Regions from separate parts of the Homo sapiens genome. Here region 2 is linked to region 1. Evidence: fine-mapped expression QTL. A gene starts in region 1. The other region holds a variant in brackets. All regions are shown on one strand. Distances are from middle to middle.

What was found. PIP is the estimated chance that this variant, and not a neighbour inherited with it, causes the effect.
Region 2: its variant is fine-mapped to the expression of AP2A2 in whole blood (TOPMed, PIP above 0.99).

Annotation. Positions count from the first base shown.
Region 1 is chr11:920,946-932,449 of GRCh38, reverse strand. It overlaps AP2A2 (adaptor related protein complex 2 subunit alpha 2), which reads right to left and starts at 6,580. Exons shown (of 22, transcript NM_012305.4): 1 at 6,362-6,580. The coding sequence starts at 6,428. RefSeq lists a silencer at 6,229-6,768.
Region 2 is chr11:986,319-999,219 of GRCh38, reverse strand. It overlaps AP2A2 (adaptor related protein complex 2 subunit alpha 2), which reads right to left. Exons shown (of 22, transcript NM_012305.4): 9 at 12,267-12,435; 10 at 10,531-10,668; 11 at 6,535-6,717; 12 at 5,839-5,936; 13 at 5,235-5,466; 14 at 4,975-5,148. Among named protein-coding and RNA genes, the nearest start is that of MUC6, 44 kb to the left of the region's middle. RefSeq lists an enhancer at 4,412-4,936. The variant G/C (reference allele first, on the strand shown) is at 6,526.

The sequences.
Region 1 (11,504 bases):
GTCTGCACGAAAATCAGTATAACTTTATGTTTAATTTTTATACTGAAGTTTAAGCAGAGTTTAAAATTTAGTGTTCAGTTTCTCCATATCTAATTTATGACTCCATAACTGGAATTGCATGAACAAATAAAATTTAACTTTAGTCCCACTGAAACACAATTCAAAGGGTATCTAATTTCAAGAAAGTTAACAGAAATGGCCAGGCACAGGGGCTCACGCCTGTAATCCCAGCACTTTGGGAGGCCGAGGCAGGTGGATCACTTGAGGCCAAGAGTTCGAGACCAGCCTGACCAACTTGGTGAAACCACGTCTCCACAAAAATTAGCTAGGCGTGGTGGCAGACACCTGTAATCCCAGCTACTCGGGAGACTGAGGCACAAGAATCACTTGAACCTGGCCGGGCGTGGTGGCTCACGAGGTCAGGAGATCGAGATCATCCTGGCTAATACAGTGAAACCCTGTCTCTACTAAAAAATACAAAAAATTAGCCGGGCGTGGTGGTGGCGGAGCCCCAGCTACTCAGGAGGCTGAGGCACAAGAATCACTTGGACCCAGGAGGCAGAGGTTGCAGTGAGCCGAGATCACACCGCTGCACTCCAGCCTGGGTGACAGAGGGAGACTCTGCCTCAAAAAAAAAAAAAAAAAAACAAGAAATGGAAGGGACCAAGTTTTATGCCAACCACAATGAGCAGAGCACTGATAATTTTTCTAATTTATCGTGAAACCTGCAGCAAAACTGTATCACTTTCTTCAAGACCATGGAAATTCATTTTTGCCATCTTGCTAATAACATCTCTCCATCTGTTTCCCCTTCATGTGAGGACCTGGGGGGGTTAAAGAAAACGCCTCCAAGCATCTGCACCACACCAGCACCACATGTAGAGAAATAAAAATGGTCATTTCCTGCCTGAAGTTGTTTTCCTGGCAAACTGACCGGTCTCAAAAGGACTTATCACTTCTTCCCTTTCCTTGCAGTCCTGATTGTTTTGCAGTCAATTCTCAGAGCCTGACAACATTTTCAGCAGTGCTGTGTCTCTCCAACAATATTCTAGTGTTGGCATGTCAACAGCAATGCATAAAGACATGCATTCACTAAGTTAGATACAACTCTCCTCTGCAGATATGTCATTTGTGTAAAAACAAACGAAAGTTCCAAAATAACTGAATAAATAGCAAATAATTATGGTCTTGTTTCCCCAATTTCAGCAGTTATTTTGTTTTCTCGGTATCTTTTGCTCAAATACAATGTCAATCAATGCACCAGCCTGAATGGACCTCGATGGGACTGTACTGAGGGGGAAAAAAGCAATCTCAAAAGATCACATATGATGTGATTCCCTTTATATGACATCCTTGAGCCCACAAAATTACAGAGATGGAGAACAGATTAGTTTCAGGAGTATGGCTATAAGGGGTAGCTTTGTGATGATGGTATAGTTCTGTATCTTGACTGAGGTAGGGAACCGGTTACACAAAGCTACAGGTGCTAAACTGCATAGAACCACACACACACACGTGCATGTCGATCTAACGAAATCTGAATATGCCTGGTGGTGTGTACCAGTGTCTGTTTCCTGGTGTTGAATATGTCCTGTAGTTATGCAAGATGTCCACATTAAGAAAGGTAGGGCACCAGGCACAGTGGCTCACGCCTGTAATCCCAGCACTTTGGGAGGCCGAGGCCGGTGGATCACGAGGTCAGGAGACCGAGACCATCCTGGCTAACACGGTGAAACCCCGTCTCTACTAAAAATACAAAAAATTAGCCGGGCGTGGTGGCGTGCACCTGTAGTCCCAGCTACTCGGGAGGCTGAGGCAGCAGAATGGTGTGAACCCGGGAGGCGGAGCTTGCAGTGAGCCGAGATCGCGCCACTGCACTCCAGCCTGGGCGACAGAGCGCAACTCCGTCTCAAAAAAAAAAAAATTCTAAAACTGGGACTAAATAAAAGGACTAGAATTTTTTTAATGCCAATTTAAAAAAAAAGAAACAGTTTATTAACTCTCACACACTGAATGCATGCTGACCAAATGCAGTGGCCGCTGGGTTGACGTCAATCAGAAAGGATGAAGTTAATTTTAGGAGACATTAAGTTAGTTCACTACCTGAGCCACAAAAGCTACAACTTTGAGGGGCAGAGCTTGACACGAGGCACCTTTTCAAATCCTGGAGCATATTCATTGCTGCCTATGCTAAGAGGAGTAATGCCCCAAGCCAGTCTGCTGGGAGTGGGTTACTTGAAGTGAAAACAGAGCATCCTAGTGTCCACATGCTCCCTGTCCGCTACCTCAGATACTTGGCACAGGGCTTTTTTTTTTTTTTTTTTTTTTTGAGACAGAGTCTCGCTCTGTCACCCAGGCTGGAGTGCAATGGCACAATCTCAGCTCACTGCAAGCTCCGCCTCCTGGGTTCAAGCGATTCTTCCGCCTCAGCCCCCGGAGTAGCTGGGACTACAGGTGCATGCCACCACGCCCAGCTAATGTTTGTATTTTTGTGGAAACAGTGTTTCCCTATGTTGGCTAGGCTGGTCTTGAACTCCTGACCTCAGGTGATCCGCCCACCTCAGCCTCCCAAAGTGCTGGGATTACAAGCGTGAGCCACCGCACCCGGCTGGCACCAGGTCTTGGAGGGGAAAAACTTTTTTTTTGAGGCAGGGTCTCAATCTGCTCCTCAGGCTGCCCAGGCTGGAGTGCAGTGGCGCAATCCGAGTTCATGGCAGCCTCAACCTCCAGGGCTCAGACAATGCTCTCACCTCAGCCCACTGAGTAACTGGGACCACAGGTGCGTGCCACCACGCCTGGCTAATTCTTTTTTCTCTTTTGAAAAGACAGGGGTCTCACTATATTGCCCAGGCTAAAGGAGGAAAACTTAAGAAACTGGTCAGAAAGACGCAAATTTGGAGCTGAAACAGGCTTTAACGATATTTCAGCTCAAAATCCGCCCCTTCAAGCGTCAGCTGAGGAAACTGAGGCTCCGTGGCTAGTGGCCTCCACTCACGCAGCTTTAATGATATTTCAGCTGAAAATCCAGCCCTTCAACTGTCCGCTGTGGAAACTGAGGCTCCATGGCCAGTGGCCTCCACTCATGCAGCTGCTAAGAGGCAGAGTCAGGGTCAAGAGCCTTGGCTGTTGGCTCAGAGTCCTCTTTCCACAGGGCCCGACTACTCCTATCATTCACTCTCATGACAGGAAAACAGCACACAAAATCAGAGCTGGCCAGGGAAAGGGGAAGCGGGGACCCCTCTGCCTGTGACATGGAGGTCAAGTTCAGATCAGCTCAAACCCTGGCTGGCTCTCCAATCCCGTCTCCAGGCACCAGCCAACATTCATTAACTCAATACGTATATACATTAATTATTTGCTGTTCCTCTAATACCTTCTTGGTCTTCTGCCTGAATTGCCCAAGAATCACCTTCCTTGTGAGGTCTTCTCTGGCATGCACCTCGCATGCCAGACGCTCGCCATGAGGAGAACAGCAGGAAAAATGTGATGAGCAAGATAGGGTGCGCACCTTGTAGAGGCCACCCTAGAGGGCAGTGGGGGAGATGGGGCCACTCAGGTGAAAAGCAGCACCACAAGCTGAAGACACTGCCCAGGAGGAGAATGGTGGGCGCTGCAGCTGATGAGAGGCCATCCAACAGCAATGAGGGAAAGAGGATTCCGAGAAAGGGGCCGTATTAAAGAGACCTGGCTCCCCCAGCTAGGACTAAGCACCCCTTCTTCTACGAGCTCCTTCAGGGGAGGGGCTGTGTTATTCAATGGGATACACTAGTGGTTCTCGACGGCGGACAACTTTGCCCTAAGGGCACATTTGTCAATGCCTGGAGACATTGTTCCTTATCACAACTAAGGCAACTGGTGCTGCTATAAACATCCTAAAAGGCACAGAACAGTTCCCCACAATAAAGTGTGATCCAGCCCCAAATGTCAGCTCTGCTGAGTTGGAGAAAGTCTGGTCTATATAGTCAAGTATTTTATAGAGTACAGCAGTTTCCCCATATCCACAGGTATACGTTCCAAGGCACTCAGTGGGTGCCTGAAACTTCAGATGATACTAAATCCTATACAAGCTGCTTTTTTCCCACACATACCTATGAAAAAGTCTAACTTACAGATTAGGCACAGTAAGAGATTAACAGAAGCCAATAATAAAAAAGAACTGTAATGATATACTGTAATAAAAGTTATATGAATGTGGTCTCTTTAAATATCTTATTGTACTATGCTCACCTATTTTCAGATCACCAGAGGTAACTGAAACCTCAGAAGGTGAAACCACAAATAAGGGAGGACGGCTATACCGCACTCACTGTGGTAGGCGCCATCCTGTCAAACGCAGGCCCTGGCACAGACAATATATCTGACAAGTGGGTGACTTGCTGTCTGAGGAAATGGCTTTCAATCTCATTGTCCTGCCTAACGCAATTTTCTTCAAAAATGGAAGGACAGACATCATAGCGCATTTAAGGGTACTCAGTCTTTGTCCCAGAGGTCCCCTTAAGAAATAATACACACACTTAGTTTTACAAAATGCATGTTGGTCTCATTATGTAACAAACAAAGAGAAAAAATGCTACTCGTAAAAGTGCTGATCTGAGGGTGTTTCTAAGCCTTTTTTTTTTTTTTTTTTTTTTTTGTGAGAAAGGTCTCACTCTGTCACCCAGGCTGGAGTATGGCGCGATCTCAGCTCACTGCAGCCTTAACCTCCTGGGGTCAAGTGATCCTCCTCTCTCAGCCTCCCAAGTAGCTGGGACTATAGATGTGTACACCAATACGCCCAGCTAATTTTCGTATTTTTTTGTAGAGACAGGGTGTTACCACATTGCCCAGGCTGGTCTCAAACTTCTGGGCTCAAAAGATCCACCTGCCTCAGCCTCCCAAAATGCTGGGACTATAGGTTTGAGCCACCGCACCCAGCTCTATGCTTTTTTTTTTTTTTTTTAACAGAGTACAGGAAGGGTTAGATGGTCCTCTACCCTTCCACAGAGTGTGGGAGAACCACTATCCTCCTGATCCTCCATCCCGTCTAAGGAGATGAGAATTCAAAGGGAAGATCACAACAGTCCCTCAAAATACACATTAAAAATTATGAGGGTGCCGTGGCTCACGCCAGTAACCCCAGGACTTTGGGAGGCCAAGACAGGTGGATCACTTGAGCTCAGGATTTCGAGACCAGCCTAGGCAACATGGCGAGACCCCCCCATCTCTACAAAAAACACGAAAATCAGCCAGGCATGGTGGTGGTGCACGCTTGTAGTCCCAGTGACTCCGGAGGCTGAGGTGGTAGGATCACTTGAGGTGGGAGGTTGAGTGCGCCGTGATGGAACTACTGCGCTCCAGCCTGAGAGCCAGAGCAAGACCCTGTCTCAAAAAAAAGAAAAACAAAAATCATGAAGTCAACTATTTGCTGGATAACAAGGAAAAAAATCAACGCAGCAGACAGGAAACTGGCTTTGTTTCTCCCTCAAATTAAATAAGGAGATGGCCTCTGAAAGCCAAGAGGAGGTTCTGCACACCAAAGTCAAATTAATTGGTGGACCGGTGCACCCACCCAGCCACCCTGCACATCCTTCTAACAGGCCCAGCCTTCCTGGCTTGTTTAACGGTTTGGTGTGGATTTTTCCCACCCCGAGGGGACAGGCACGGGGCTGAGAACGAGGTCTGTGATTGGAGCAGCAGGCAGCGAGGCCATCCCACACCCCGACTGCTGCTCGTGTCCAGATTCCCTCCGGGAATGAGTCATTTTAATCGTCGTAGGTGAGATCTAATCAGGGGTTAATAAGCCTCCAGAACCCAGGTCACAAAGCTGTTTCCTGGGAAGACACTGATTTCCAGATTTCTGCTCCCAAAGCTAAAATCCACGCCGTTTTGGAAAACGCTGGGTTAAACGCTCCAGTACTAGAAAGACCAAGGTGACATCATGCTGGGGAGGGGCGTCTTGGCCCGGAACCCCCTTGGTGGTGCCGCAGCCCCCCGCACGGACCAGCAAACGGGAGTGGAGATGTGGATGAAGGGCCGTGCCCTAAACCCCTAGACCCCGCACCCCTAGACCCTGGACACCCCACCCCGCACCCCCAGACCCAGGGCCCCGCTCTGCATCCTGACCCGCACCCCCATACCCGATACCCCAAGACTCTGAGCGCCGCCCGCACCCCCAGACCCTGGACCCCCACCCCGCACCCTGGCCCCCACCCCCAGACCCGGTACCCCAAGACCCCGAGCGCCGCCCGCACCCTCAGGCCCCGGGCCCCGCCCGCATCCCAGCCTGCACCCCCGCCTCGAGGCCCCGCCCCGGGCCTCCGCTCCCAGACCCCGTCTCCGCCGGCGGCCCCGGCCCCGGCCCCACGCCGCCCCCGCCACTCACAGTTGCGGATATCCGAGATGAAGACCGCCAGGCCCCGCATCCCGTCCCCCTTGGACACGGCCGGCATCTTCCGACGCTCGGGAGCGGCCTCGGCTGGCGGACCCGGGCGGAGGAGCGCGGGGAGCGGGAAGCGGGGAGTGCGGTCGCCGTCACCGCCGCGGAGGAGCCGCCGGGGAGCCGCCTAACCACGGCCGCCTCAGGGTCCCAGCGCCGCTTTCTGGGCCGCCGCGCGCGCGCACGTACGGCGCCCGCACCAGCACGCACGCGCACGCACGCGAGCGACGACGGACGGCGGCCGGGGCGGGTGTCGCGTGAGGCAGCGCGCGCGCGTCCGCGGCACGGGGGCGAGCCGGTCGAGGCAGGCGCGGGGGCGCCCCCTGCAGGCGGACACCATGGACGGAGCCGCTGAAGCCACGCGTTCGCGTCCCGGGGCCGCGCCAAGCTGGCGATGCCGCCCGCGTCCCCCACGGGAAGGGCGTGGGTCCGGGCGGGAACCCGCGTGTGCAGCGGGCCGCCTCTGTCGTTGTTGGTGGTCACTGCAAAAGAGGCGGCCACGCAGGCACACGCGTACGGCCTCGTCCTGGGCCTCGGCCCCGCTAGCTTGCCCCGAGCAGTCTCCGTTTTCTTACTTGGAATAAACGACCTGTGAGCGCTGGGCGGCGGGGCAGCTCCGAGGCCAGGGCCTTGTTTGTTCCGCGGGGGCCGGGGCGGGAGGGCGGCGCCGGGAGGAAGCTGGGGCTCCAGGCGAAGGGGTCACAGCCGCTGGACGGCCTTTGGCGAGGAAACCCTCCCCTAGCACGGTATCCTGAGACGGTGGGGCTGGCCCGCCCCTCCTGCCGCCCTGAGCCGCCAGGGCCACATCTCTTGCGGTCCCTGAGCTGGGGGCGAGGCAGGCCCCGTGCCCGACCCAGCCCAGGGTCTGTGTGGCAGCCCAGGTGCCCCCTCCACATCACCTGGGCCTGCAGAGAAACAACCACCCACCCCACCCCAGTGACAGCGGCCGGGGGCGGCAGCCCCTGCGGAATCTAGTCCCTCGGCGGCGCCAGGACTTTTGGCCACTGTTGCCAGGGCCCCCTCTGCTCCCCAGCCCTCTGCACCACTGCAAGCTGGAGGCCTAGGCCCACCCCTGTGGACACATCGCAAGGGAGGACCTGCTGGGCCAGGCTGCACAGCTCCAGGTCCCGGCCAGGAAGAGACCCCAGGGAGTGGGGAAGCAGATGGCCCTGCCTCACTGTCCTTCCCAGAGCCAGATGGCTTTGAACAGGAAGCTCCCTCCTGCTGCAGTGGGGGGATCTGGACCCTGTACCTGGAACTGGCCCAGACCCACCAGCCAGGGCTTTGTCCCCACCCTGGCTCACTTCCGCAGCCCCAGATGAGAGCTTAGCCCTGGTGGAGCCCGGCCAGGAGGAGGGCACAGGACCCATGCCCCTCCCCAATGAACCGGGTGCCGCACCCAGGCTCTGGGCCTCCAGAACTCCTGGGGAAAACCAAGATCTGTGACAGACCCCAGTCAGCATAAGGCAACCAAGTCCATCACTTCCCAAGACAGAGGCACGGAGCCGACCCAGCAGAGGGCTTCCTGGAGGACGGTACACCCCTCCGGAGTCCCTATCCTCTCCCAGTGCCACCTCCTGGCAGAGAAAGTGGTCCCGGGGCTGTTCATTCTTCAGCCTCTCCCTTCCACCAAGAAGCTTCCCTCCCCTGTCCCTGACAACAAATAAAGGCCATTCTGGACACAAGAGCATCTTGTGCCATGTGAGGGGTCCTGGGCTGCTCTCCAGGACAGTCCCAGCAGTCACGAGGACCGTCCACTAACACACGTGGGCAGAGCATGGGCTCTGGGCGTCAGGAGGCTGGCATGCCTAATCCAAGCTCCCATTGGCAGTGGCAGTGCAGAAGACCGAGACAAGCAGACCACTGTGCCCCCCCACCAGCAGCCACTCACAGAGCAGGGCAATGGGGGTGCTGCAGGGGCTGCCCACAGGAGGGCTTGGGCCTGGCAGGCATCCCCCTCCGCCCACTCGGAAGACTCCTCCTCAGTGCCAGCTCTGGGATTCCCACAGACATCCTCCCGTCCACACAAGAGTGTTTAGGGGTCCCAGAAGGCCCGACATGCAGCCATGCAAAAGACTTCCCACCTCCTTCCAGCGTCGTTGCCCTTGCAGACACGCAAGCCCTCCAGATGATTCACTCCAGTCCCAGCCTTGGGTCTGAGTCCATGTGGGCCTCTCTGACCACTGCCACTCCTCGGCTCGGGAGAGGCCAGCTTCGGGAGTGCGCAGTCCTAGGAAACAGTTTCTTTTTCTTTATTTTATTTTTTGTAGTGATGGCATTTCACCACGGTGCCCAGGCCGGTCTTGAACTCCTGTAATCCCAGCATTCCGCCTGCCTGTGTCTCCCAAAGTGCTGGGATTACAGATGCAAGCCACTATGCCTGGCCTATTTATTTATTTATTTATGTTTAATTTTAGAGACAGGGTTTCTCCCTTTGACTCCCAGGCTGGAGTGCAGTGGTACAATCATGAATCACTACAGCCTCGACCTTCTGGGCTCAAACCATCCTCCTGCCTTGGCTCCCAAAGTGCTTAGACTGCAGGTGCACGCCACCACACCTGGCTAAGTTTCTGATTTTTGTGGAGATGGAGTCTCACTATGTTGCCCAGGCTGGTCTTGAACTCCTGGGCTCAAGCAGTCCTCCTGCCTTGGCTTCCCAAAGTGCTGAGATTACAAGCCACTGTGCCTAGCCTCAGTATCTTTCTTTTTTTTTTTTTTTCTTCCTTGAGATGGAGTCTTGCTCTGTCGCCCAGGCTGGAGTGCAATGGCATGATCTCGGCTCACTGCAACCTCCACCTCCCGGATTCAAGCGATTCTCCTGCCTCAGCCTTCTCAGTAGCTGGGATTACAGGCACGCACCATCACGCCCGGCTAATTTTTTGTATTTTTAGCAGAGGTGGAGTTTCACCATGTTGGCCAGGATGGTCTCAATCTCCTGACCTCATGATCCGCCCTCCTCGGCCTCCCAAAGTGCTGGGATTACAGGCGTGAGCCACCGCGCCCAGCCATTTCTTAAATTATTTGAACGTTTGTCATACTTTAGCCACGCAAGGTCACAGTACTATTCCCAAGGGCAGAGGTGGGGACGAGTCGCTTTCCTTCATCCACAGCCATGGGGAAGCCAGGGTCCACAGATACAAGCCCGACGTGGGCATCATGAAGGGAAAACAGGCTGGGGCCCCAAGCTGCGGTGTGGAGGTGCTGTCTCACTGCAGCAGGGTTCCCCAACATATAGCCCCTGCAGCGTTAGCTGGCCATGCCCTGGGTCCTACCCAGACCTGAACATGTCTGTTTTACAAATGACCCAGTTTCCTTCTCATCATCTCTGGCGTAAGTTGCAGACAATGACCCTTCCAGAAGAGGGTCTGGCAGCATGTTCCATGTACAGTTGGTCCCTGTGCACTCATGAGAGTTCAGGGACAATGAGGTGGCATGCTCAGACCCTGTGGCCCCCCCGTGATCATCTGAGCACCTGCAGTCCCCAGGAGTGACATGCTCAGGGAAGGCTGTGGGAACTGACTGTCCCCTGCCATGGAAGGGTGGGAGGCATGAGGGGTGCATTCTGGAACTCTGCGGTGGGTGGGTGCGTCAGGTATAGCCAGCCCACCTGAAGGAGGAGAAGATGAGCTCAGGCTCCTGAGTGCTCATCACGGGGCGGGTGGGAGCTGCCATGACCACACATCTTTCTCACCACTGCAAAGCCGGAGGAATACAAAGCCATTCACAGCTGGGCCCAGACAGCAGCAAAACAGCCACCAGGGTGGGAGGTGCAGCCTCCCCAGACGTCTGGCGGGAGAGCTGCAGTGCTGTGCGGGGCCCAGAGAACTGGCATGGGGTAAATTCGATAACCTGGGACCCCAAGCCCCACTTCCCAAGAGTCCCCGCCCAGCTCAGCCCTTGATCCTGAGTCAGGCCCCAACACATCCACACCCACAATCGCACAGAGGGGGATGACTGGGCACCTGTGAACAGCGGGAAGCTGAGTTTCTGTCAACAAAACCCCACAGAACACTTGTAGGATGGCTTTTGAGACACAGGCCCCGGACAACAGCTGGGTCCTTTGCAGCACCCACGGTGTCTGGATCAACTGAGCCAGCCTGGCAGCCCAGGGTCCGTCCGGCTGCTGCTGGGCCAAATTCCTGGAAGCTACATGCAGGGCAGCCCCTAAAACATGGTTACAATGACAGAAATCCCTGGACATAATGCAGAAAAAGGGGCTCAGAGGACTCAGGGACTGAACCTGCCCAGCTTCTCCTAAGGAGACCCTTCCTGCCAAAGGCTTGGAGATGTGTAACTTGCACAAGGCCAGCACCTTCACAGGCTCTCAGGGCCGTCCTCTGAGGCTGTGGGGGTGCAGCCACATCAGCAGGCCCCCTGCTCTCAAAGGAGAAGGGCAGCTCGGGGTGACTAAGGCCAAGGAGGCCAGACACCCCACTAGGTGGCAGGGTGATGACATCATCAAGGTCTGTCCCAAGCAGCCCCTAGTACGGGTTACCGGCTCAGGGCACCCTTGGGCCAACAGAGGGGCAGCCCTCTAAGCTCCTGCATAAGATGTGTGGTCAAGGCCAGGCACGGTGGCTCACACCTGTAATCCCAGCACATTGGGAGGCCGAGGCGGGGGGATCGGGGGATCATGAGGTCAAGAGATCAAGACCATCCTGGCCAACATGGTGAAACCCCGTCTCTACTAAAAATACAAAAATTAACTGGGCATGGTGGCACGTGCCTGTAGTCCCAGCTACTCGGGAGGCTGAGGCAGGAGAGTCACTTGAACCCAGGAGGCAGAGGTTGCAGTGAGCAAAGATCACGTCACTGAACTCCAGCCTGGTGACAGAGCGAGACTCTGTCTCAAAAAAAAAAAAAAGTATGGTCAAGAAAATTCCAGGCCAGGCGCAGTGGCTCATGCCTGTGATCCTCTCCCATAGGAGGCAGAGGCGGGTGGATCACTTAAGGCAGGGAGTTCAAGACCAGCCTGGCCAACATAGTGAAACCCTGTCTTTACTAAAAATATAAAAAATTAGCTGGGCATGGTGGTGGGCACCTGTAGTCCCAGCTACTAGGGAAGCTAAGGTAGAAGAATCGCCTGAAC
Region 2 (12,901 bases), 66 kb before region 1:
GGCACAAGGAAAGAGCGCCTATGATCTCATGATTAAACTCTCACAACAGGGCACAAGCAGCAGCTCAGTCCATCGCATGCTCACCCATCCAACAGGGCAGCAGGCTCCCCAGCAATGCCCCAGCAGCCTGACTTTGGGAGCTCAGACCTGCTCTGGGCTCCACGGGTCCTGCCCCACAGCAGCCTGTGCACCAGAGGGACTCAGATGCTCCCTATAAAAAGGACACCCAGCCTGGCACGGTGGCTCACACCTGTAATCCCAGCACTTTGGGAGGCCGAGGGGGGCAGATCCCAAGGTCAGAAGATTGAGACCATCCTGGCCAACATGGTGAAACCCCGTCTCTACTAAAAATACAAAAATTAGCTGGGTGTGGTGGCACACGCCTGTAATCCCAGCTACTCAGGAGGTGGAGGCAGGAGAACTGAAACCAGGAGGCGGAGATTGCAGTGAGCCAAGATCGTACCACTGAACTACAGCCTGGCAACACTCACACTTTGACACTATACACCAGGGGCTCTTGGTGGAGAAACCCCCCACCCAGCTAAGAGCGTTCTGGAGATGTGGAGGGCTCTGACTATCACAAGGATATTGGCATTTCACAGGCAAAAAACAGAGACACAAGACACCCTAACTTGAAGATTCGTCTTGAGTAACTTTAGAATGTTCCACTGGACATCTAAGAAGGTAAAAAATTAGTTTGTAATTATCTGAGACTCCACCTGAATGCCATTTTACATTAATGCAAAGTTAAGGTGTCACACTGTACTTTCAAAAAAACTACATGTGTGGGTTTGTGATATATGAATTTTACTCAAAGATAAATGAGGCATCACAAAGTGTGTTATGCAAAAAAGGTGCAGGTCAGAATGGGGGCGGGGGGTCAGAATGGGGGCGGGTGAGAGTCAGAATGGGGATTGGGGGGCAGTCAGAAACGGGGCAGGCTCCCAGGCTCTGCTCTTGTGACGGAGCACCTCTGCAAGAGAAGACGACACGGGTCTCATGTGCTCCAAGGGTGGGAGGTCACAGAGGAGCTGGCAGAGAAGAGTCCCAAAAATATCCAAGGCGTGTCTCGATGAGACCATCTGAAGGCGGCGCTTTGCTCCCTACGCCGGGGACAGCGCCCGCCAACACTGTGGCCTCCACAGCCTGACAAAGCTGTGAGCTGCGTGGGAAGCCATCGGCCTTGGCCATGGCCATGCACCTGCAGCCCAAATGGAGACAGTTTCTCCTCTGCATCTCATCACAGATGTTACCCTGGTTCCTGCACTGATTCAAATACATCTATGGCTTTTATTTTATTTTATTTTATTTTTTTGAGACCGAGTCTCACTCTGTTACCCAGGCTGGAGTGCAGTGGTGCAATCTCAGCTCACTGCAACCTCCGCCTTCTGGGTTCAAGCAATTCTCCTGCCTCAGCTTCCCGAGCAGCTGGGATTACAGGCACACACCACCACACCTGGCTAATTTTTGTATTTTTAGAAGAGACGGGGTTTCACCATGTTGGCCAGGCTGGTCTCAAACTCCTGACCTCAAGTGATCCGCCCACCTCAGCCTCCCAAAGCGCTGGGATTACAGGTGTGAGCCACCATGCCCAGCCATCTATGGCTTTTAACTGCTTTCTAAAGTAGGAAAGCCCTTTGCCCTAGTAAAGGCATTTGTACCTGAAACGTTACCACAGATTGTAACAGCGAGGCCAGATGCAAGGCCCCAGGACAGTAGGGTCCTAACACCCACTTCAGGTTCTTCATCTTCCTTATCCTCTCAGGCCTGGGAGACCCTCCTCAGGGAGCAGGCCTGGCTCCTGGGCCACACCAGTTCACCTCCTCCCTCCAATAGCAGGACAACTTGAGGGGTGAAGGTTTTGCCTACAAGGGCCCCAGGCTCCTGCATGTGAAGCCAGGCAGCCTCTGATCCCCACACCCCTGTGCTCCCCAGCACACCCGGGGACACGCACACCACAGCCTCCCCCAAGGAGCTGTGTGCAGAAAGAGGATGCTCGGAAGAAGTAAAATGTCCTGGCCTCATCTATGATGTTAAATAAAAGACATTTTGGCCAATGTGACACCAAGATAAAGCCACTGTCTCTCGTGGGAAAGGCACATGTGCTGATGCCACCCTGAGGCCCCTTCACGGCCCATACAGAAGACCCTGAGCAAGAAAACTTCGCCAGGAGTGTCTCCCCATAGGGAGGGGCCTCTCACTGGGGCTCCCGTGAGCAATGGGAACAGATTGGAAAGCACAGGATAGCAATGACACCCACACACCATAGCTCTCGGTCAGAACAGAGGGGCCCACACACCACAGCTCTCGGTCAGGACGGAGGCGCCCACACACCACAGCTCTCAGTCAGGACGGAGGTGCCCACACACCACAGCTCTCAGCTCAGAACAGAGCTGCGTGCCTCGGCCACAGACACCTCCCTAAGGAACCCACCCGCCAGGCACCACTGACCATCAGGAGTGAAGCCACACTCAGAAAATCCACTGAATGAGCCCTGAAGGGGGAACTCCCTCCAAGAAGGCACCTTACAGAAATGCTGAACCTCACTGGACCCTCATCCTCCTTTTCAGAGGGCAGCACACTGCTCTCACTCCCAGGGTCCAGAAGCTTCCATCTGATCCCTAAGCCACACAGTCAAGGCCAGGCCCTCCAAAGTCCACCCTGAGCCTAGCCGGACAAACCTGGGTGTGATCAAAGGCCTGGGGTATGGGCACACCTCACTTCTCAGGACCCACATTAAAAAGAAACATCAAATAAGAACCAAAGAGAGACTGAAGACAATCCTACAGCCCCTTTCCATGCTCCCTCAGCGAGTTCCTCTTAACGTCAAAGCAGCTGGAGGGGAGCGAGAGCACCTGGTGCCTTCCCAGCTTCCAACAGGCAATCCCAGGTTTCCGTGGAAGACTTCACAGTGCCCTTGCTGAAAGCCGGCCTCCAGGAATCCCTGCACACCAGCCTCCCCTGGATCACGTCATCCTGCCCTCGCCTCCTCACCCAACTGGGGCCGCGTCCTCCTCTCTGCAGGGCGGAGCCGCTGCCGGCCCAGCACCCACGGGAAGGCCCCTGCTCCGGCAGCTCACAGACAAATCTCCACAAGCAAGTTTCTGCCTCCAGAAACCTATGTCAAGATGTCCAAAGGAGAGGGAGAGATGGATTAGAGGAGTGACAGAGGCCTGCTGCACTAGGCGCCTGGCTAGTGACGTCCCACGGGAGGAGACAGGGTCAAAAGCAGGTCACCAGCTCTACAGAGCACATGAGAAACATAAGCATGAAGGTGCTCAGGCGTGAAGGGAAGACGCCCACCTTGGGAGAAAGAGTCACATCTTTCATTCATTTCATTCACTCCAGGATGAGCTCACAGGCAATTCAAGCCTCCAGATGGCGGGCACAGCAGCGTGCCACAAACAACACAGAGAGAGGGCACGGGGGGACAGGGGCTGCACAGAGGACACTAGGTGGAGGGAGGGGAGAGGGAGGAAGAGGGGGAGGGAAGACTGCTCATTGAGATGTCAGGCTCAGCCTGGATACCAGCCCCATGGCAGGCCCTGCACTGTCGGCCAGAGGGGCAGGACACATGGTCAGCCGGGGCACATAAGCAGGTCCCCGCCAAGGAGTGCCAGGACTCCGACATGAGCACCCTCCCAACCAGCACACTGCCAGGGCAGGCACCACCACAGGAGCTCACCCCACAAAGCCCTGCCGATACTGGGTAGCAGCACTGGTTGCCACCACTGGACCTGCGTCCTGGAGAGACAGGTCCTCTAACTGGACAAACAGAAAGCCCGCCTGACCCCGACAGGAGCCCTCCCTGACAGTGCAGAGGGGAACAGCTGGCAAGCAGAGCCAAGCAAAAACGCAACTCTCAAAACGACACTTCTCACCTGACAAATACCACAGGACACATTCTGTTACAGGATTATTCTCATCGCATCACACATACAAGGAAAACCAGACCTAACCCAACTCACTACATAAAACCTCGAAGAGCAGGGCAGGACAGGTCCTCTCTAAATCAACAAAGCATGTGAGGACAGCTGCCTGGGTGAGGCAGTCCTGTAGGAGAGGGGACGGCCACTTCCCCTAAAACAAGGCACCACAGAGGATGTGTGAGCTGAGCTGGACAAGACGACGGTCTGAAGGAAGTGCCTTGCCCAGCAGGCACAGTGGCCCCCGGGAGAGGACAGCGGGGTGTGCAGCAGGGACAGTGGCCCCCGGGACAGGCCAGAGGGGCGTCCAGCAGGGACAGTGGCCCCCGGGACAAGCCAGCGGGGTGTGCAGCAGGGACAGTGGCCCCCAGGACAGGCCAGGGGGGCGTCCAGCAGGGACAGTGGCCCCCGGGACAGGCCAGCAGGGTGTGCAGCAGGGACAGTGGCCCCCGGGACAGGCCAGGGGGGCGTCCAGCAGGGACAGTGGCCCCCGGGACAGGCCAGCAGGGTGTGCAGCAGGGACAGTGGCCCCCGGGACAGGCCAGGGGGGCGTCCAGCAGGGACAGTGGCCCCCGGGACAGGACAACGGGGCGTCCAGCAGGGACAGTGGCCCCCGGGACAGGCCAGGGGGGCATCCAGCAGGGACAGTGGCCCCCGGGACAGGCCAGCAGGGTGTGCAGCAGGGACAGTGGCCCCCGGGACAGGACAACGGGGCGTCCAGCAGGGACAGTGGCCCCCGGGACAGGCCAGGGGGGCGTCCAGCAGGGACAGTGGCCCCCGGGACAGACAGCGGGGCGTCCAGCAGGGACAGTGGCCCCCGGGACAGGACAGCGTGGCGTCCAGCAGGGACAGTGGCCCCCAGGACAGGACAGCAGCGTGTCCAGCAGGGACAGTGGCCCCCAGGACAGGACAGCGGGGTGTCCAGAGCCACAGCCAGAGCCTGGGTTCTCAGTACATGCTCCTCCCTGACAGGCAAATGCTCTGCTGGTCCCAAGTCTTGGGGGTGAGGCCCTGACAGGTCTGGGTGCACAGTAGGTGAGGGACCCACCACGGCGCTGGTACTGGCTGGGGCAGGCTCAGGACCCCCGTTCACGTCCACACTCCTGTCCCGCTTGGTGTCCTCCAGGTCTGTCACCGTGCTGGGGCCCTTCTTCTTCTTGAGCTTTGCCAAGATGGAGGACTCCCGCTCCGGGAATGGGGGCATCTCCTCCAGCACGGTCGCCTTGGAAAGAACACAGGGTGGGACTGGTCAGAGCTCCTGGCCTCCAACCCTCAGCCAAGCCAGCCCGAAGGGCGGGGGCCTCCTACCAGAATGTCGGTGCTGGCCACGGTGCTGAGCCGCAGGTACTCCACAGCACGCTGCTGCAGCTCCACGTCTGCGTTCCTGAGCTGGCTGTCGCTGCGCAGCACGTCCTGGATGGTGGGCTTCACCTCCGGGAAGAGGTTCACGAACTTGATGTAGGTGGACAGGAGCAGCGCGCGGGTGGGGACGCTGCACAGGTGGAACTTGGAGTGCAGCAGGTGGAACTGGATCAGCGGGCTGGGGACGGGGAGGCACAACACAGGGACACCGTCGTCCCCTCGCAGGCTGCAGCACGCCCCCGCGGGGGGGGGACGGCGGCGAGACCCCCTGGCCTGCACCAGAGGCCGCTGGTCGGGACCCTCTTCCAGCTCCAGATCCCACCGCAAAGACGCCCCTTTCACTAAGTCAGCCATCAACCCCACGTCTCCATTTTCTACTAGAATCCCTGCTTTTTCTATCAACTGAAGGAAAACAAAAAGACGCCGATGGGGAGCAGAAGCGGCTCTGCGAGGCCTCACGGCAGGGCCAGCTGGTGCCTCGCCTCTTGCCACCGACCACCGAGAGGCCCGCCGGAGCGCACACAGCCCCGACTCGCAAAGGGCCTCTCACCTGGATCTCGGGTCTCCAGCTATCAAGTTTCCAAACTCCCCCAGGATGTAGCCGCCCACTTTGACCAGGTTCTCGTGGCACGCGGGAGCCTGAAGAGCCTGCGAAGCACAAACAATGAGCCGGGGTGGCAGCCAGGTGCCAGAGTTAAGGCGAGGCGGGCACGTCCTGGCGCGGTGCACCCTACACCAGCACCAGCCCCTCAGCTTCCTGGAGACCCCAGTCCAAGTGCCCATCCCTGCCTTCCTCAGCACCCTCAGTACCTGTGTCAGCAGCAAGGAACCCAAGGCTGCCACACGCTGACCTGCCCTGGAGGGAGCTGCAGCATCCACAACAGGCTCTGGCTGGGGAGGTTCTGCCAGCGTCCTCATGGCACACCCCTTGCCGGTGGCCTAACCCTCTCCGACGGACAGGGCAGGCCCCACCACGGCATGCCCCAGCATGCTCTCACACACACAGAGGCCGGCTTTCTCAGGTGGCCCCCAGAGAGCCAGAAGTTTGAGAGTTAGGGTGAGAAGAAACTGGGACTCAGCAAGGGGCACCAACAGTGGAGGAGCTAGAGCCTCAGGGAAGAGCTGAGGGGCAAGAGGGGTCAGCAACGGCCCTCGGCACCTCCACGCAGGCAGGCTGGAACCACTCACTGCTCACCTTCTGCAACTGCCCTCCACCCCATCCTTCCTGCCATCCTGC[G/C]GGCCATACCTCGAACACAGTCTTGGCCGCGTAGCCCTGCACGTCGTCCCGGTTGATGACGATCTGAATGACTCGGTACCACACCTCTTCACTCACGTAATCACCAGCAATTCGGATCAAGTTCAAGATGGTATCCACATACCAGGTGTAGTCCACCGCGTACTTCTCAGCCAGGATGGCGACCTTCAGCACCTGTGGGGGACAGGCTGCTGAGGGCCGGCACCTGCAGGCCATGGCAATCCCAAGACCAAACTGTCGTCCAAAGTCAAAGTGAGAGTTTCAGAAGCACCTCAATGTGTCTACAAAAGTTTGGGACATGGAGGAAGCTTGAACTCGATTCTCAAAAAAGCCCACGAGCCCAGAAAGTTTAAGATGCCCTGACTTAAGCAAAGAAAGCCAGGAAGAGGCGGAGACCAGTGCACAGAAGGCCACGGCCACAGCCAGGCCACCTCCCACCTGGGCCCTTCTCTCCCAAAGCCCCAGCACCTGGCGGCAGCACTCCTCTGACCTCATCACCCTAGGCTCCCGGTGGCAGCACTCCTCTGACCTCTGACTGCGCCACCCTGGGCTCCCGGCGGCCAGTGACTGCGCCACCCTGGGCTCCCGGCGGCCACTTCTCTGCTGGTTTCTTCCGGCTCTGGCCAGTCTTTCCTGCGAGCCTCACCTGGGGGTTCCCCTTCTTCCCCTCTCTGGCTCACTCTCACGGGTGCCCCCCGGAGGCACCTGCCCAGCCCACACCCACGTGGCAGCCACCCACATGGAGCTCTGCCAGGCTGTACAACACCAAACTCATCTCCCCAAAGTCACCTCGCCTGGAACCAAGCCCCCTTCGAACAGCGCCAGCTGCCAACACCAACGCCAGCAGGCATCAAGACCGCGCACCTCCCGAGGGCACCCCTAATACCCTGCCGCCCCTCCCCACACCCTGCCGCCCCCTCTCCACACCCTGCCACTGGCCTCTCAGGTGCTGGTGACTGTGCCCCCCCACCCCAAGTCCCTGCCTGGAGCCTGGACCCCCAAACCCCAACCTGACTCCGTGACACTTCCAGGGCATCATTCCAAAATGTACTGCCTCTGAGCCCTACCCGCAGCTCACGGCTGTGCACCAGGGGCCCTCAGGCCTCACTGGCAGGGTCCCCATGTCTGCTTCCACCCCTGCCTCGCGTGCCCTGCTCCCCAGCCTGTGCTAAGGTACCTCCCACCCCTCCACGAACGGATGCTCTGCCCTCCCAGTAGCCTCTGCACCATCATCCTCTCCAGACCAGGCCACTATCACCTTCTGCAGAAGTCCACACAGCCCCCCAGGAGTGTAATGCCTCCTGAGGCCCCCAGAACATGAGGCACTTCCTCCAGCCATCCCACCCACAGCACAGCAACCCACGGTCCTGCTCTCAATCCGTCCCCCTCCATGGATGGCAAGGTGCCGAGTAGGCAGGGAGTGGGCCATGTCCAGTTTGGACACTTAGCACCTAGCACAGCCAGAGAACACGCCCTGCCATGCTCGACTGAAAGGACAGAGGGAAACACCATGCCCGGCTGAAAGGATGGAGGGGAGCACCATACCCGGCTGAAAGGACAGAGGGGAGCACCATACCCGGCTGAAAGGACGGAGGGGAGCACCATACCCGGCTGAAAGGACGGGGTGGGGGGAGCATCGTGCCCGGCTGAAAGGATGGAGGGGAGCACCATGCCCGGCTAAAAGGACGGAGGGGAGCACCATACCCGACTGAAAGGATGGGGTGGGGGGAGCACCATACCCGACTGAAAGGATGGGGTGGGGGGAGCACCATGCCCAGCTGAAAGGATGGGGTGGGGGGAGCACCATGCCCAGCTGAAAGGATGGGGTGGGGGGAGCACCATGCCCAGCTGAAAGGATGGGGTGAGGGGAGCACCATGCCCAGATGAAAGGACGGGGTGGGGGGAGCACCCTGCCCGGCTGAAAGGATGGGGTGGGGGGAGCACCATGCCCAGCTGAAAGGATGGGGTGGGGGAGCACCATGCCCAGCTGAAAGGATGGGGTGAGGGGAGCATCATGTCCGGCTGAAAGGACGGGCTGGGGGGAGCATCATGCAGGCCAAGACACAGCACCTGTCTTACTCCTCACAGCAGGAGCTGGCTGAGGATTGCCGCTCATCACGCAGAGGGGCGAGAGCAGACACCGGGCTGACGAATGCCCAGGACCTCAAAATCTGCACAACTGCACTCAGAAGCACACTGCTTCTGTCTCTGTTCAAAACACCCAGAACAACAATCAGGAACGAGGCTCCCGTGACGGCCGTCCCCAGAGCCAGCCCCACCCCACCACAAGTGCTGACACCAGGCCACACTGCCCCAGCCAGGCCAGAGAGGGACCACTGGCTACAGTCAACGAGCACCTGCCTGGCCCCTCTACAGACAGCCCTGCCCTACACCACGGTGCCTGCCCTTGGGGCCTCCTGCCGGGAGTCAGCCCACCCCGTCCCTGTCCCCCTCAACTTCCCAGGCCCACTGTCCTGGAGGGTGGACAGTCCAGCGTGAGAGCCGCCTCCTGGCCCCTGCTCTCTGCAGGTCTGCAGTGCCTCACTGAAGCTCAGTCCATGGTAATTTCACCCCTCAGCATTGAAGCCCCAGCACCTGGGCTCCTCCGTTCACTAAAAGACCCCTGAAAACCCGAGTCTCTCACCTGGGCATGACCACACAACACCTGCCCAGAGCAACCCTGTCACCTGCCACTAGCTCCAACACTGGCTCTCGGCAAAGCTCCCAAGGAGGCCTTGAGCCGCACTTCGCCCAAAAAAAACAAATAACAAAGCGCTTTCTATACAACGGAGGCGCTGTCTCAGCCTCAACAAGAGGCTGTGGTCCTGGCTGGTCACAGTGGCGAACCCCACGCGAGGACACCGGGCCTCCCCCTTAAACCCCACCATCCACAGACACGGTGAGCCTGAGAGGCCTGTGAGTGTGGTGGAGGCCTCAGGCCCTCTTCTCTGCTGACCATGTGGCCTCCACAAGGGTTTCTTCCCTCAGGTTTTGGTTCATGCTCAGTCTTTCACACGTACAGGTTTGATGAGCTTCAGCTATCTGGCAAGTGTGCACACCTACTTTGTGAATAAAAACAACACGGGACATTAAGCTATGGCCTAGATCCCGTCCTTCCCAGAGATCAAGAGGGACACCCAAAAAAGCCAAGCCACAAAGGATTAATTCAAGGGCTCAAAATGCAACACAATTAAAAGAATTTTGCCCACAGGAGTCTGGATTTGTGCAGCCCCAGCGCAGACGGCTGGAGCCTCACTCAGACCTGGGGCTACAGTGCCACCACTGCAAGGACAGGCAGGCCACAGAAGCCGCGCAGGACGGGCATTTTAGTTTTTTTTTTTTTGAGACAGAGTTTCGCTCTTGTTGCTCAGGCTGGAGTGCAATGGCGCAATCTCGGCTCACCACAACCTCCGCCTCCGCCTCCCGGGTTCAAGCGATTCTCCTGCCTCAGCCTCCGGAGTAGCTGGCATTACAGGCATGCGCCACTACGCCCGGCTAATTTTGTATTTTCAGTAGAGACGGGGTCAGGGTTTCCCCATGTTTGTCAGGCTGGTCTTGAACTCCTGACCTCAGGTGATCCGCCCGCCTTGGCCTCCCAAGGTGTACAGGCGTGAGCCACCACACCCGGCCAATAGTTATTTTCAAGACCAAACGACTCTACCAAAAATGCTGATTTTTTTTTAAGACAGGGTCTCGCTGTGTTGCCCAGGCTAGAGTGCAGTGACATGATCTCGACTCACTGCAGCCTCAACCTCCTGGCCTCAGGTGATCCTCCCGCCTCCACCTCAGGAGTAGCGGGGACCACAGGTGCCACCACACCCAGCTTGAAAATGTGGATGAAAACACAGAGGCAGAGGAGCCTTGTATTCAGCATCTCATGGGTTCTCAATCAAGTCCTGCTGGACGGAATCGCAGAGCACGAAGGAAATCCTGCCGCTGAGATTCACGCCTGTGGCAGGAGAGGACTCAGAGGCCACCAGAACTCACAATCTCTTCTCGGATGGAGTAGTCAGCTGTCTCCAGATAGCTCAGCATCTCGGCCACGATCTGTGGGGCGTTGCTGCGGTCGCACATGGCGTAGAGGAGGTCCACGGCCCGCTGCCGCACGCTCACGTCCCGCTCAGTCTGGGGAACAAGGCACAGAGTAAGAGGTCGCAGGAGCAAGGCACAAGCTTGGGGACAGGCTGGGGACAGGCTCGGCACCCGCATCTCAACACCCACTCTGAGTTTCCCTCACATGCACATCCAGGTCCAGGGAGCCGACCTGCACTCGGGCCACGTGTGTCTGGACAGCCCGGAATAGAGTTCCGCCTGCTGGCCCGGCCCTCCCGCACAGGCCAGCTTCGCTAGGACCCAGCGCACTGCCTGGATTCTGCCCGCTCGTCCATGCCTCCCTTGCCCTCCACAAGGGCCAGCTTCGCTAGGACTGAGCGCACTGCCTGGTGCAGGCCATCAAGGACTCCCTTCCATGCAGCCAAAGACCCCACTGCCTCGGACACGGAGCTGCCCCAAGGCAGGTCCTCACGCCCCACCCCAGAGCCCGTGCTGATGGGCCCCCAGGAGGCTCTGCAGCACGAGAAAGCCCGAGCTCTGCTCCCAACAAAGGCAGGAGAGTGGGCACCACCAGCGCTAGCACTGGCCGTGTGCAAATGAGTGTCCAGCCCTTCTGACAATAGGGATTGACTAAAACAAACACCAAAACCAGGACCAAGAAGAATCCAGAATACCAAATGCCCACCACGAGCCCCTTGCACACCACCCGGAATATCTGTGAGCTGCACGCAGACGTGCGGGGGACTGGGAGCAGCCCTGCCACAGCCTGAGGCTGAGCCAGATGGGGGACATGCAGCTCCCCGCCTCCCACTCCCTAACGCATGTGCACCGGTGACTAGGGACTTGGTGGACACACCGCAGGGTCCCCTATGTGGAACGAACCCTCGGGGTCGCTCTGGAGACTCGCAAAGGCTGGCAATGGCCAACCTCAACTGGGCTCTTCCAACTCTGAAATTTTTTTTTTTTTTTGAGACGGAGTCTCGCTCTGTCGCCCACGCTGGAGTGCAGTGGCGCGATCTCGGCTCACTGCAAGCTCCGCCTCTTGGGTTCAAGCCATTCTTCTGCCTGAGCCTCCTGAGTAGCTGGGACTACAGGCACCGGCCGCCACCACGCCCGGCTAATTTTTTTTTGCATTTTTAGTAAAGACGGGGTTTCACCGTGTTAGCCGGGATGGTCTCGATCTCCTGACCTTGTGATCCACCCGCCTCGGCCTCCCAAAGTGCTGGGATTACAGGCGTCAGCCACCGCGCCCGGCCCCAACTCTGAAATTTTAATCCCCGAACAAAGTGAGTTTCCTTTGTAAAAGGGGGATTTTCTTGGAGATAAGGGAAAAAAATTTCATCTTTCTACCAAGAAGAACCATTTCTACTTGTCAGCACTATGCACGCGCAGGATGGCACACGGGGGCTGCCCCCAGCAGGGAAAGGGCTGCCAGAGACTCCTCTGCTCAGCCTAACCAGGACAGCAGGGCCAACCCGGCCATCTCCAGGCAGCATGGCCCTCAACAGTGGTGTGACCTCCCAAGAGTAGGTGACAGGCGGAGGCCAGCAGCACCAGCACCACCTCCATCTCTGCGGGGAGTCAGGAGGCACTGCGTACCCCCAGCCTTCACAGGAAGACCCACGGCACCTGCTCAGGGAGTGAGCAGAACCCAAGGACAGGGCACTCGCCTTCAGGGCGTTGATGACCGTCTCGATGTGCGTCTTGACAGCCTCATGGGAGAACTCAGAGCTGGCCAGCGTGCACATGCTCTCCAGGGCCAGGTAGCGCAGGTTGGTCTCGCGGTGCTGCAGAAACTGGCCCAACTGGTTGCAGGCACGGACGAGCAGGTTCGGCTCACTGTGTGGAGGGAGGGGAAGTGGGTGGGGTTTCCTCAGCAAGTGCAACACAAACTGGACAGAGTCTGCGTTCCCCGACGGGTCCAGATGGCAGACAGCAAAGTCACACGGCACTCACCGCCACCACACTGCTCAAGTGGGAACTCGGGGGCCTCCCCAGATGCAGATGACGCCCGACCCCCACCCCTGACATCCATTTTGTGTCCATCCTGTGCATCCCCACAGTGAGTCAGCAGCCCGTGTGTCCACTGGAGCCTTCCCAGCACCTCCTGAGCCTCAATCTGCATCAGGCCCGCGGGAGGCCGGTCAAGCTGTGACCGGCAATGGGGTCTCAGCCAGAGGCACCAGCCCAGGGCAGGGAGAAGGCCGAGAAGGCCGGGAGCGCGGCTGCTGCCCCACTGACTCTACTGTCTCCTCAGGATGTGGCTTCTCCTCACATAACAACAGAGCTTTCTCCAAAATGGGAA